Regions from separate parts of the Homo sapiens genome. Here region 1 is reported to be linked to region 2. Evidence: microRNA targets listed by miRTarBase, many of them from high-throughput screens and not tested one by one. Region 2 holds a microRNA gene; the other region holds the end of a gene's coding sequence.
Evidence for each region. The annotated mature microRNA hsa-miR-4670-3p reads UGAAGUUACAUCAUGGUCGCUU and lies in region 2 at 5,131-5,152, opposite strand. An mRNA with a match to its seed (bases 2 to 7 or 8) in the 3' UTR can be bound and repressed. Matches are read on the target gene's strand: a 7mer-m8 pairs with bases 2 to 8, a 7mer-A1 pairs with bases 2 to 7 and ends in A, and an 8mer does both.

Region 1: miRTarBase lists STAM as a target of hsa-miR-4670-3p. Seed matches in the 3' UTR shown: 7mer-A1 at 1,646-1,652.

The regions. Positions count from the first base shown.
Region 1 is chr10:17,713,635-17,721,179 of GRCh38, forward strand. It overlaps STAM (signal transducing adaptor molecule), which reads left to right. Exons shown (of 14, transcript NM_003473.4): 14 at 909-3,190. The coding sequence ends at 1,146. Among named protein-coding and RNA genes, the nearest start is that of TMEM236, 35 kb to the right of the region's middle.
Region 2 is chr9:92,522,861-92,529,860 of GRCh38, forward strand. It overlaps MIR4670 (microRNA 4670), which reads right to left and starts at 5,198; the gene lies at 5,124-5,198. The region is part of intron 5 of CENPP (centromere protein P); the gene reads left to right. ECM2 (extracellular matrix protein 2) reads right to left here. Exons shown (of 10, transcript NM_001393.4): 2 at 1-33. The coding sequence starts at 6.

The DNA of each region.
Region 1 (7,545 bases), not on the chromosome of region 2:
TATCATATTTTGAAGGCATTATCTTCAAAATCTATCTAGACTCTGACCCTTTCTCCCATCTCCACCATTACTGCCGTGGCTCTTCTGCTGGTCGGCTCTCTCCTGGTGGATCGTAATAACCTGCAGTCAGCTATCCTGGTCCAGAGGGAGCCCGTTAAACCCTGTGGAATCTTATCACGCTTCTGCTCAGAACGAGCCAGTGTCTTTCTGTCTCACTCAGAGTGTAAGCTACAGTCCTTATTGTGGCCATCAGGTGCTGTGTGTTCTCCAGCCCCCTCCCCACCACCGCAGTCCTGCCGGTGATCTTAGCTGCTCTCCCCTCGGCACCCCCTGCGGCCCCCTCTGCCGCAGCACTCGTGGCCTGCTGTTCCTTGAACATGCTTGGTGTTTTCTCTCCTCAAAGGCTTCTTTCTGTTTACCTGAAATGTACTTTCCTAGGGAATCTATCTGGCTCACTCGCTTACTTTTTCCACATCTTTGCTTAAGTATTGCCTTATTGGAGAGGCACCCTACCATAAACTAGAATCCCTTGCCCCAGCTGCTCTTTGTCCTCCGTATTGGGCTTTGTTTTTGTTCTTACCAGTTAGAACCACTTGACACACGATACATGTGTTTGTTACCCTTTTCTACCACTAGAACAGACGCTCCATGGTGGTATAGACTTATTTCCGCAAACCACCCCCCCCAACTTTTTTTACACAATGGTTAAATAACACACATATTTTTAATGCAATGCCTGATATCACAAAGCCTAAAATAACAATGTTTGGCACATTATAGCTGTTTAGTAAAAGGTTATTAAATGAATTGACTATATGAATGAATGCTTAGTAAATAGCTTTTCCATTTATCTGTAGTTGCTCTATAAATCAGTATTGATGTAATTGAGTGTTTTTCTTCCTCCACAGTACAATGGTCAGTTCCGTTCAAGGAAACACATATCCCAGCCAGGCGCCAGTATATAGTCCTCCTCCTGCCGCTACTGCTGCTGCTGCAACTGCCGATGTCACTCTGTACCAGAATGCAGGACCTAATATGCCCCAGGTGCCAAACTATAACTTAACATCATCAACTCTGCCTCAGCCCGGAGGCAGCCAACAGCCACCTCAGCCACAGCAACCATATTCTCAGAAGGCTCTGCTATAGGACCCGGTGTTCCTCTTGGTGGCAGATACCTGCTAAATGCCACTGACAATGTTATGAGATTCATTACTATCTTAAGATGTGTTTATCCTCAGCTTATAGGAATCTCTCCAGGTCAACAGGTTCAAATATTCAAGAAGGTAGAACTCTCCTCAATTTACACTGACTTTTTAGAGGTTCTTCCCCCCCCGCCCCTGCAGAGGAATGAAACTACTTACAACATTTAATTCCTTTCATAATATGAAAGAATTGATACAAGGCTATTTGTCTCGTAAACCTGGTCTGCAGAAAGTCAAACTTACAAAAACTGTTGTGACAAATGTTATGTACATATATTGATATGTAACTGCATTAGTGGCCATTTTGAATCACAGTGGTGATCGTGTGAATATATTTAACACTGTGTTAAATTAATTTACGTTGCTATTTTATTTTAATCATAAACAACTACCATGTTTCTTAATGTTTTGTGTAAATTTAAGGTAATTATACTATCCTTTTAAACTTCAAGAAAACAAAGTTGTTAGCGTATTTACATGAAGGCGCATTATGTTGTCGTGTGTTTCAGTTTCACATTAAACTGAACCTTTTACTAATTGTGAGCTAAAGAGATATATATATATATGTGTGTGTATATATATATATCTACATGTCTTTCTGTAGCCTCTGCATACTACTGGCTGTCATCACACCAGCGTACAGTAGCTAAATTTTTGGTGCAATTATAGCAAATGATAATGTTCCCTTTTGAACTTTTACATTTTGGCATGACATTTCAGAGTATTGTGGGACCATGAGACAAAATTAAGTACGATCACATTCTTTATTTCTCATTTTAAAGAAATGATGTTGGTTTACCTTTTCCTAGTTGAAGATAGTAATTAGGTTTCTAAGCTGTATACTGTGTTTATTGGTGGCAGTGACACCAAAGATAGAGGCAATGGATAGAAATTTTTAAACTGGAAAGAAAACCTGAATTACACTACATTTTCGAAGTCTCTTGTAATTATTTGGGATATCAACAAAATTTGATTCGTCTGTCTAATCCCTTGCTAGTATTTTAAATATGTCTTTAACACATTGTATCCTTTAATTCTTCATTAAAATGGAAATAAGTAGATGTTTCAAAGTAATCTACATTCCTGGCTTTGCTTAACGTTTATATAGGTATTGTTTTCTTTCACACTGGATTTTTGGGTTGCTCTTTCTGGCCTTTTAAAATTCTAATGGAATTATTTTGGCTTCTTACTTGGGAATATTTTCAAATGAATGCTTTTCTTTTAATTCATGCGAAAAATGTTTTCCACTGACATTGTAATCTTAAATATTTACGATTTCCCTGGTTGGGCTATACTATTATTTTAGCACTATTTAAACAACGGAAAAGTTGAGTCGAACATCATATTTAATGAATTGATGTAACAGGTTTCATACTATAAATGAAAATTTCATTTTTATTTTCTAAGACTGTTGTAATCAGGTAGCTTGTTTATTTTCTTTTTGAGAGAAGATTAAATCTTTAGCCAGTAATCTTAAGGGTGACTAATTTCACAGACTCAGATTTAAAGCACCGTAGTTTTAAATCTGAGCCTGTGAAATTAGTCACCTGTAAGATTACTTAAGGGTAACTTAAGTGTTTCGCTCAAGTGTTGTGTTCTGATTTCCTGTGTTTAAAATATGTTGCCCTGCCCTGAAGTCAAATTTCACATTTTAAATACTATAAGTTAGTTTTTGATAAATATCTGTCGGATTATAATCTTTTCCACTCCAATTTGAGTATTATGGTTTAACTGATATACTTTTCTGCAATTTTTCTTTGTCTTTTGATAAATTCCTGTTTACCAATGTTAAATGTATCATTTTCCCATTTTAATTTTGATATCTTTCATGCTGAAAATCAATGACATAGTCTCTACTATGATTTTTGCCCTATAAAAGTCAAGTAACAGTGAATAGAAAAAACTACCCTTATTACAACCCATATACATTTTTCTTTACCTTTTACATTACTAGCCTTATAAAGGTTTAAATGATGAGTACTTTAAAACTGTTACTGTGTTAGTTTATGCCTTCCCATTATTAAAAATGAAAATACCAGGGGGAAAAAATCCAATGAAAGTGAAGCACTGGCTTGTCTTTCAAATGACAAGACGAGGGTAGAAATAGGAGGGGGCCAGTTAGGATCATGAATGACTTTAAGTTCTGAAACCTGCAGGTCTTGCACTTTCAAGAAATCTTTCATTAATAGCTGTCCTTATTTTGAAGGAATAGAATAATTTATAAAATGAACTAGCTGTAACATAGGCTGGACGCAGTGGGTCACACCTGTAATCCCAGCACTTTGGGAGGCCGTGGCGGGCGGATCATTTGAGGTCAGGAGTTCGAGACCAGTCTGACCAACATGGTGAAACCCCGTCTTTACAAAACTACAAAAATTAGCTGGGCGTGGTGGCAGGCACCTGGTAATCCCAGCTACTCAGGAGGCTGAGGCGAGAGAATTGCTTGAACCTGGGAGACGGAGGTTGCAGTGAGACGAGATCACGCCACTGCATTCCAGCCTGGGAGACAGAGTGAGAAATAAATAACTGTAATGTAAACTGCTGTGAAGCAAATTCTATTTCTCTTTTTTTAAAAAATAAAATTTGAGATTGGTTTTCCGTAAAATAGTGACACGTAAATGGAAAAAATCTAATCCAGTTACGAACTAGCATATATAGCCAACAGGCCCATGGCCTGTGATGTTATACCAGTGCCCTGAACCTGTAAGAGGATTTCTAATGCATACCTAATGTGACTTTACAGCCTCTTCTAACTCCGTCTTTCTCCTTCACTGTTACCTATCTTCCCTATGCAGCGAGGGAACTTTTTATGTGCCTAAGATTCCTTTTTTCATGTACTTCTGGTGCTTTGTTTCTATACCTCATAGTTTTTGTATTTAAAATGCTTAATAGACCAGTGTCTTTTTTCTCTGATACATACAGCTTTCCTATGCGATATGTATAATTCAGTTTGAAGACATGTTTTTTCCGAAGCTTCAAGTTGATGTGAGACAAATTAGCACCCTACACGATAAACTATGCAACTATAAAAATTATGGAAATTGCCCATGCCTGTGTCCTGAATGGTAATGCCTAGGTTTTCTTCTAAGGTTCTTATGGTTTTAGGTCTAACGTTTAAGTCTTTAATCCATCTTGAATTAATTTTTGTATAAGGTATAAGGAAGGGATCCAGTTTCAGCTTTCTACATATGGCTAGCCAGTTTTCCCGGCACCATTTATTAAATAGGGAATCCTTTCCCCATTGCTTGTTTTTCTCAGGTTTGTCAAAGATCAGATAGTTGTAGATATGCGACATTATTTCTGGGGGCTCTGTTCTGTTCCATTGATCTGTATCTCTGTTTTGGTACCAGTACCATGCTGCTTTGGTTACTGTAGCCTTGTAGTATAGTTTGAAGTCAGGTAGCGTGATGCCTCCAGCTTTGTTCTTTTGGCTTAGTATTGACTTGGCGATGCGGGCTCTTTTTTGGTTCCATATAAACTTTAAAGTAGTTTTTTCCAATTCTGTGAAGAAAGTCATTGGTAGCTTGATGGGGATGGCATTGAATCTATAAATTACCTTGGGCAGTATGGCCATTTTCACGATATTGATTCTTCCTACCCATGAGCTTGGAATGTTCTTCCATTTCTTTGTATCCTCTTTTATTTCCTTGAGCAGTGGTTTGTAGTTCTCCTTGAAGAGGTCCTTCACATCCCTTGTAAGTTGGATTCCTAGGTATTTTATTCTCTTTGAAGCAATTGTGAATGGGAGTTCACTCATGATTTGGCTCTCCGTTTGTCTGTTATTGGTGTATAAGAATGCTTGTAATTTTTGTACACTGATTTTGTATCCTGAGACTTTGCTGAAGTTGCTTATCAGCTTAAGGAGATTTTGGGCTGAGACAATGGGGTTTTCTAGATATACAATCATGCCATCTGCAAACAGGGACAATTTGACTTCTTCTTTTCCTAATTGAATACCCTTTATTTCCTTCTCCTGCCTAATTGCTCTGGCCAGAACTTCCAACACTATGTTGAATAGGAGTGATGAGAGAGGGCATCCCTGTCTTGTGCCTGTTTTCAAAGGGAATGCTTCCAGTTTTTGCCCATTCAGTATGATATTAGCTGTGGGTTTGTCATAGATAGCTCTTATTATTTTGAGATACTTCCCATCGATACCTAATTTATTGAGAGTTTTTAGCATGAAGGGTTGTTGAATTTTGTCAAAGGCCTTTTCTGCATCTATTGAGATAATCATGTGGTTTTTGTCTTTGGTTCTGTTTATATGCTGGATTACATTTATTGATTTGCATATATTGAACCAGCCTTGCATCCCAGGGATGAAGCCCACTTGATCATGGTGGATAAGCTTTTTGATGTGCTGCCGGATTCGGTTTGCCAGTATTTTATTGAGGATTTTTGCATTAATGTTCATCAAGGATATTGGTCTAAAATTCTCTTTTTTTGGTTGTGTCTCTGCCAGTCTTTGGTATCAGGATGATGCTGGCCTCATAAAATGAGTTAGGGAGGATTTCCTCTTTTTCTATTGATTGGAGTAGTTTCAGAAGGAATGGTACCAGTTTCTCCTTGTACCTCGGGTAGAATTCGGCTGTGAATCCATCTGGTCCTGGACTCTTTTTGGTTGGTAAGCTATTGATTATTGCCAGAATTTCAGAGCCTGTTACTGGTTTATTCAGAGATTCAACTTCTTCCTGGTTTAGTCTTGGGAGGGTGTATGTGTTGAGGAATTTATCCATTTCTTCTAGATTTTCTAGTTTATTTGCGTAGAGGTGTTTGTAGTATTCTCTGATGGTAGTTTGTATTTCTGTGGGATTGGTGGTGATATCCCCTTTATCATTTTTTATTGCATCTATTTGATTCTTCTCTCTTTCCTTCTTTATTAGTCTTGCTAGTGGTCTATCAATTTGGTTGATCCATTCAAAAAACCAGCTCCTAGATTCATTAATTTTTTGAAGGGTTTTTTGTGTCTCTATTTCCTTGAGTTCTCCTCTGATTTTAGTTATTTCTTGCCTTCTGCTAGCTTTTGAATGTGTTTGCTCTTGCTTTTCTAGTTCTTTTAATTGTGATGTTAGGGTGTCAATTTTGGATCTTTCCTGCTTTCTCTTGTGGGCTTTTAGTGCTATCAATTTCCCTCTACACACTGGTTTGAATGTGTCCCAGAGATTCTGGTACGTTGTGTCTTTGTTCTCGTTGGTTCCAAAGAACATCTTTATTTCTGCCTTCATTTCGTTATGTACCCAGTAGTCATTCAGGAGCAGGTTGTTCAGTTTCTATGTAGTTGAGCGGTTTTGAGTGAGTTTCTTAATCCTGAGTTCTAGTTTGATTGCACCGTGGTCTGAGAGACAGTTTGTTATAATTTCTGTTCTTTTACATTTGGCGAGGAGAGCTTTACTTCCAAGTATGTGGTCAATTTTGGAATAGGTTTGGTGTGGTGCTGAAAAAAATGTATATTCTGTTGATTTGGGGTGGAGGGTTCTGTAGATGTCTATTAGGTCCGCTTGGTGCAGAGCTGAGTTCAATTCCTGGTTATCCTTGTTAACTTTCTGTCTCGTTGATCTGTCTAATGTTGACAGTGGGGTGTTAAAGTCTCCCATTATTAATGTGTGGGAGTCTAAGTCTCTTTGTAGGTCACTCAGGACTTGCTTTATGAATCTGGGTGCTCCTGTATTGGGTGCATATATATTTAGGATAGTTAGCTCTTCTTGTTGAATTGATCCCTTTACCATTATGTAATGGCCTTCTTTGTCTCTTTTGATCTTTGTTGGTTGAAAGTCTGTTTTATCAGAGACTAGGATTGCAACCCCTGCCTTTTTTTGTTTTCCATTTGCTTGGTAGATCTTCCTCCATCCTTTTATTTTGAGCCTATGTGTGTCTCTGCACGTGAGATGGGTTTCCTGAATACAGCACACTGATGGGTCTTGACTCTTTATCCAATTTGCCAGTCTGTGTCTTTTAATTGGAGCATTTAGTCCATGTACATTTAAAGTTAATATTGTTATGTGTGAATTTGATCATGTCATTATGATGTTAGCTGGTTATTTTGCTCGTTAGTTGATGCAGTTTCTTCCTAGCCTCGATGGTCTTTACATTTTGGCATGATTTTGCAGCGGCTGGTACCGGTTTTTCCTTTCCATGTTTAGCGCTTCCTTCAGGAGCTCTTTTAGGGCAGGCCTGGTGGTGACAAAATCTCCCAGCATTTGCTTGTCTGTACAGTATTTTATTTCTCCTTCACTTATGAAGCTTAGTTTGGCTGGATATGAAATTCTGGGTTGAAAATTCTTTTCTTTAAGAATGTTGAATATTGGCCCCCACTCTCTTCTGGCTTGTAGAGTTTCTGCTGAGAGAG
Region 2 (7,000 bases):
CTTCATGTTTGATTTTTTTCCACCAGCCAATTTCTAGAATGAAACAATATTTCAAAGTTAGTGGTGACTAAATTTTTACTTCTGAAAATTGGCTTATATATTTGCTTGTATGCCTCAGTAGGCAAGTCTTTGAGAAATTACACTTATGATATATGGACTATATGCTATAGTATTATTGCCAAATCATAATTTGGAATTCTTCTATCAGAATCAAAAAACTTTTTTTTTTTTTTAAATAGAGATGGGGTCTTGCTCCATCGCCCAGGCTGGAGTGCAGTGGTTCAGTCATGACTCACTGCAGCCTTGAACTCCTGGGCTCAAGCAGTCCTCCTGCATTGGCCTCCCAAAGTGCTGGGATTACAGCATGAGTCACCATGCCTGTTCAGAACTTTTTTGTATCTTACCTTTATCTTTAGACCAGGAATTAGAAACCTTTTTCTATAAAGGGCCAGATAGTAAATATTTGAGGCGTCATAGGCTACACCTTCTCTGTCATACCTATTCAGCTCTGTCATTGTAGCATGAAAGCAGCCATAGACAATATGTTGGGGACCAGCCTCAACACCACCCATAGGGTACCCAAAGCCCTGTGGCAACAAAGGAAGAGAAGAGACAGGTTAAGAGTTCATAAAGATGGGAGCCAGGGGGCCAGTTGCACAATGGAGGCTGCAAAAGGCCCAGAGTTCTGGTCTCCACACGATTTATTGAGTACAATCACTTAGATCTAAGAAGCAGATGTTTAGGGCGAAACAGTGAAAGGGAGGCAGCATGTCATAGGCGTAATCTATAGCAGTAGCGGTTTAAATGAATCTCCTTTGTGCTTAAACAGCATATCTTTAACTTATTGGAGAGTAGCTAGTAGGAGCGGGCTTAACTAGGAGCCTGTACGTCTGTCCACATTTCAGTGTTTCAGAGGAGTGTCTTTCTCCTTGAGCACAGTGTTTATAGATAAGAGAGCAGGTTGCACTCAGAGCATGGGAACATAACGGCGATAAGAAGGCTTTCCTCCTCAGAGACCTCTTGTGGCTTTCCACAACTTATTGTCCCATATTTTTATGGCCAGTTTATGCAGGCACTCCATAAGCCTTTTCCCCAACAACAATTTGTAAACAAATGAGCATGGATGTGTTCCAGGGAAACTCATTACCAGTAAAGGTGGTGGATCAGACATGGCCCCCTCTCTGGGCCCTACTGTTCTGCAGGTTTTCAAAGATTACTTGGGAGATTTCTCTCCACCTGTTTGCTAAGACGTTCTGTGACTGATGTAATCCACAACCCATTTTCCCAGCCGTTTTCTGTTTTGTGCTTTTATTCTCTAGCTTTATAATTGTCTGGGGGGAAGGGCGTGATGGTGCCATATAAAAATAACAGTCAATAGCATCAGTTATAAGGAGGTAAGAGTCAGGAAGAGTAACTCTTTAATTAGCTGGTCTCAGGGTTAGTATAGGGCCTTGCACATGGTAAAGCTGAAAAACATTTAAGAAATGAATATTTAGGCACTCTTGGTACAGTAGTAGCATTATGGTCAGACAGACTGGCGCAATCCCTGTGAAGTCTGGTGGCCAGGGACAAGAGAAACCTCCATCAAGGTGTTGCAGCAGCTGTCATCAAAGGATTCACTCAGCCAATCTCTCTTGGCCTAAAGTTAGTCCTACAAAGGAAGGTTGGCAGTTTTGACTGCCTCTCAGAATTCTACAGCTGAGAAACACACACATACTCACATACACACACCTATACCCCTTGCAGCTTTCCTCCTGCTCTTGCCTCAGGTCCACTCACTGTCAGTGTTTCCTGAGATGAAAAGCCTTCCTTACACAGCCAGTATGGAGGAGAAACTAAAACCCCAGGGATCATAAGAACCCAGATCACAACAGATTTGCCGCTGTTATCTTTTTAATGGGAATTTAAGGTATTTGGTGATTCTAGAAGGTTAAAGTAACTAACTTGCTCAGTGATGAAATTTATTTCAATTCTCACAGGCATACCTTGGTCTCCTTTGCCAACCAGAACAAATCTATGATAGGAAGGAATGGTAAAACATTCAAGGTGATGTTACATACAGAGATGAATACCCTAAACTGCAAAGGAGAGGCATTGAAGGATTAAGGGATAAGTGGCCATAGACTGCTAACCCAGTCATCTTGTTGGAACCTCAGAAAATACCTGAGAGGCCAGGCACTGTGGCTCATGCCTGTAATCCCAGCCCTATAGGAGGCCGAAACCAAGGTGGGAGGATTGCTTGAGGCCAGGAGTTTAAGACCAGAGTAAGGAACATAGCAAGACCTTGTCTCAACTAAAACATAAAAAATTAGCTGGGCATGGTGGTGCATACCTGTAGTCCTAGCTACTCAGGAGGCTGAGGCAGGAGGCTCACTTGAGCCCAGAAGTTCAAGGTTGCAGTGAGCAATGATTGCAGCACTGTACTCCAGCCTGGGTAACAGAGCGAGACTCTGTCTCAAAAAAAAAAAAAGAAAAGAAAAAACCTGAAAGACCCTGCAAGCATTTGACTCAATCTTTCTGTCTGACCATTTGACCAAAGAAAGTACAGTCATGTACCACATAATGACTTTTTTGTCAGTGACAAATTGCATATACCATGATGGTCCCATAAAATTATAATGGAGCTGAAAATCTCTTATTGCCTAGAGACGTCACAGCATCATAGCATAACGCATTACTCATAATGTTTGTGGTGATGCTGGTATAAACAAACCTACTGCACTTCCAGTCATATAAAAATACAGCACAGGCTGGGCGCGGTGGCTCAAGCCTATAATCCCAGCACTTTGGGAGGCCAAGGTGGGTGGATCACCTGAGGTCAGGAGTTCGAGACCAGCCTGCCCAACATGGTGAAACCCCATCTCTACTAAAAATATAAAATTAGCTGTGTGTGGTGGTGCACGCCTGTAATCCCAGCAACTCGGGAGGCTGAGACAGAAGAATCGCTTAAACCCGGGAGGCGGAGGTTGCACTGAGTAGCTAGGACTACAGGTATGCACCACCATGCCCAGAGTGCAGAGAGACTCTATCTCCAAAAAAAAAAAAAAAAAAAAAAGCACATACAATTATGTACAGTACAGTACATAATACTTTCATATACAACTATATTACTGGTTTATGTATTTACTATACTATACTTTTTATCATTGTTTTAGAGTACATGCCTTCTATCTATTTAAACAAACATTAACTGCGCAACAGCCTGAGGTGGTTCCTTCAGGAGGTATTTCAGAAGAAGGCATTCTTATCATGAGTGTTATTACCCATGAAGACCTTCCAGTGGGACAAGATATGGAGGGGGAAGACAGTGATATTGATGATCCAGACCCAATGAAGGCCTAGGCTAATGCGTGTTTGTCTCAGTTTTTAACAAAAATGTTTGAAAAGTTAAAAAATAAAAATAGAAAAAAGCTTACAAAATTACGCTATAAAGAAAGAAAATATTTTTGTACAACTGTACAATGTATTTGTGTTTTAAGCCAAGTGTTATTAAGAAGGAATTTTTTTAAATTCTTGAAACAAATGAAGATGAAAACACAGCACACCAAAACCTATGGGATACAGCAAAAGCAGTACTAAGAGGGAAGTTTACAGCAATAAACACCTACATCAACAAGTAGAAAAACTTCATATAAACAACCTAATAATACATCGTAAAGAACTAGAAAAGCAACAGCAAACCAAACCCAAAATTAGTGGAAAAAAAGAAATAATAAAGATCAGAATAGAAACCAAAAAAACTATAGAAAAGAGGAATGAAATGAAAAGTTTTCTGAAACGATTAAAAAAATCAAGAAGCCTTTAGACAAAGAAAAAAAAGAGGAATGCTATTACAAAAGAGTCAAAATTTTTTAAAAAATAAAAAGTATATAAAGTTAAATTACAGTAAGCTAAGGTTAATTCATTATTGAAGAAATAAAAAAACTTTTTTATAAATTTAGTAGACTCTTAGTGTACAGTGTTTATAAAATTTACAGTAGTGTATAGTAATGTCCTAGGCCTTCACACTCACTCACTGACTCACCGGAGTGACTTCCAGTCTTCCAAGCTCCATTCATGGTAAGTACCCTAGATAGTGTACCATTTTTTAAATTATTTTAGACCATATTCTTACCATACCTTTCCTATGTGTAGATATGTTTATTATTTATTTATTTATTTATTTAGAGACAGGGTCTGGCTCTGCCACCCAGGCTGGAGTGCAGTGGCACCATCTCAGCTCACTGCAACCTCCGCTTCCTGGGCTCGAGCCAATCTCACACCTCAGCCTCCCGAGTAGCTGGGACTACAGACCCGTGCCACCATGCCCAGCTGATTTTTATATTTTTTTTGTAGAGACAGGATTTCACTATGTTGCCCAGGCAGGTCTCAAACTCCTGAGCTCAAGTGATTCACCCACCTCAGCCTCACAAAGTGCTAGGATTACAGGCATGAGCCCCCACACCTGGCTTTAGATATGTTTAGATACACAAATACCATTCTGTTCCAGTTGCCTACAGTTTTCAGTACAGTCATGGGCTGTACAGGTTTGTAGCCTAGGAGCAATAGGCTCTACCATATAGCCTAGGTGTATAGTAGGTTGTCCCATCTAGGTTCGTGTAAGTACACTTTATGATGTATGACAACAAAATCATGTAACATCACATTTCTCAGAATGTATCCTTGTCGCTAAGTGACATATGACTGTAATTTGTTGATATCCAGATTCTTAGAAGTCTGCTTCACAACCTAAGACAAGCTGTGGGAAATTCCAAGGGTATCTAAACTGAAAACCATGAGCATGAGCTCAGGGTAATGAATGCCTTCCTCAAGCCACAGTGTCTACCACCCAAATGTTTAGGAAATGCAGGGTGATCAGTGCTAAGTCTTGGCAAATATTGTGATTGTTTCTTAGTAGAAACCTACAATGGTAGTAGCAAACATATGGCTGCCATCCTGGGTCCTTGGCCTAAGTACAGATGTCACTAACTGACCTATTTTTTACATTCTGCATACAGTATATCACCTGAAGGCCAAGAAAATGAGCATGGTTTTGTGGAGATCACCTTCCCTGTATTGCCATAACAACATTCCTACTAGTTTGACAACTAGTAACCAGAGTGGCTCCATGAAGTAGAATGATACTCTAGGAAGCGACCATGATGTAACTTCAGACTTTTGGAGAGTCTGTGAAGTTACATCATGGTCGCTTCCTAGAGAATCATTCAGCCATTACACCAGTATTATGACAAAACTTATCAAATCTGACTCCCAGCCAACATGGAGTAATAGGGACTACGTATACCTTCCCACCTGAAACAACTTAAAAATAGAGCAACATATATCTGAAGCATTTTCCAAACATTAAACAAAGAGCAGTCCAGGCCAGTGATCCCTGAAAGGGGATGCAAATCAAATGCCCGGAGAGACCTGTGATTGACCTGCTTACTCCCTCAAGGGAGTTGCAGTGAGGGGAACACAGGCAGAGTCCAGCAGTCTCCATAAGTTGAAAAGATACAGCTGGAAATCTGAGGACACCAAAGAGACTAGTGTTCCTAGGGCAGAGTACAGAGAGGTGAGAGCTAGCCCAGAGGAACCCTTCCAGAGATGTGAAGTCTTCCACTGAGTACTGGATAGCACATGTATGTAAGTAAACTATTAATACTTGAGACTGGGAAAAGAACTAACCTAAAGGACAAAGGGGAAAACAAAGCAAAACAAAACAAAAAAAACAGGTCTCTGGAGCTTAAAAAAGACCAGGAAGAGTTTGTGTTCCACCAGTCAGAGTGGAAAACCTTACAATTCACAGGGCATCTGGTAGAGTACTCAGAAGAGCATTAGCTCAGTAGAGGAAAATAATTAGCCCTAGGCTAAAGGCTGCTGTGATCCCATTTAATAAAGCTTAAAAGCAAGCCTTTCTGAAAGAATTAAACTGCGTACAATAACTTGACAGTGTCTCAGATAACCCAACAAATGTTTTAGGATCCAATGTAAATTTACCAGGTACACAAAGAAACAGGAAAAGTTGACCCATAATGGGAAAAATCAGTTTATTGAAACCAGTTCAGAAATGACAGTGCTGATATACTAATAAAGTAGGTGTTTAAAAATCATTATACCTATATTCTATATGTTCAAGAAGTGAGAAGAAGGATTAACCATGTAATGTAGAAACATAGAAGATATTTTTAAAAACCCAAATCAAACTTTTAAAGATGAAAACTACAATGTGAGAGAGAAAAAATACATGACAAGGGATGAATAGCAGATTAGACATTACCAAAAATAATTGGTAAACTTGTTTTCAAAAACTGCAAAAAGAAATAGACAAATCCACAATTGTCATCCAAAATTTCAACACTTCAATCCTAAATATTAGTTTCAAAAATAGTAGACAGATTACAAATTAAAATGAGATGCCTCTACATACCTACCAAATGTCTAAAACCCAAAACACTGACAACACCCAGTGCTGGTGAGTGTGTGGAGCAACTGTAAGTCTCATTCGGTGCTGGTGGGAATGCAAAATGGTACAGCCACTTTGGAAGACACTTTGGCAGTTTCTTTTAAAACTTAACATACTGTTGCCATACAACCCAGCAATCGTGCCCCTTGGTATTTACCCAAATAAGATGAAAATCTATGTCCACACAAAAACCTGCACGCAGATATGTATAGGAGCTTTATTCATAATTGCCAAAACTTAGAAGCAACCAACATGTTCTTCAATAGGTGAATGGAAAAAAAACTATGGTATATTCAGACAATGGAATATTATTCAACACCAAAAAGAAATGAGCCATCAAGCCATGAAAATACATGGAAGAACCTTAAATGCATATAATATATAACTAAATGAAATAAGCCAACCTGAGATGGCATATGTATGATTTCAACTCTATGACATTCTAGAAAGGGCAAAACTATGCAAGCTATAAAAGAATAGTGAATTTGGGGCGGAGAGGGATGAATAGGTGGAACACAGAGGATTCTTAGGGCAGTGAAACTCTTCTGATACAGT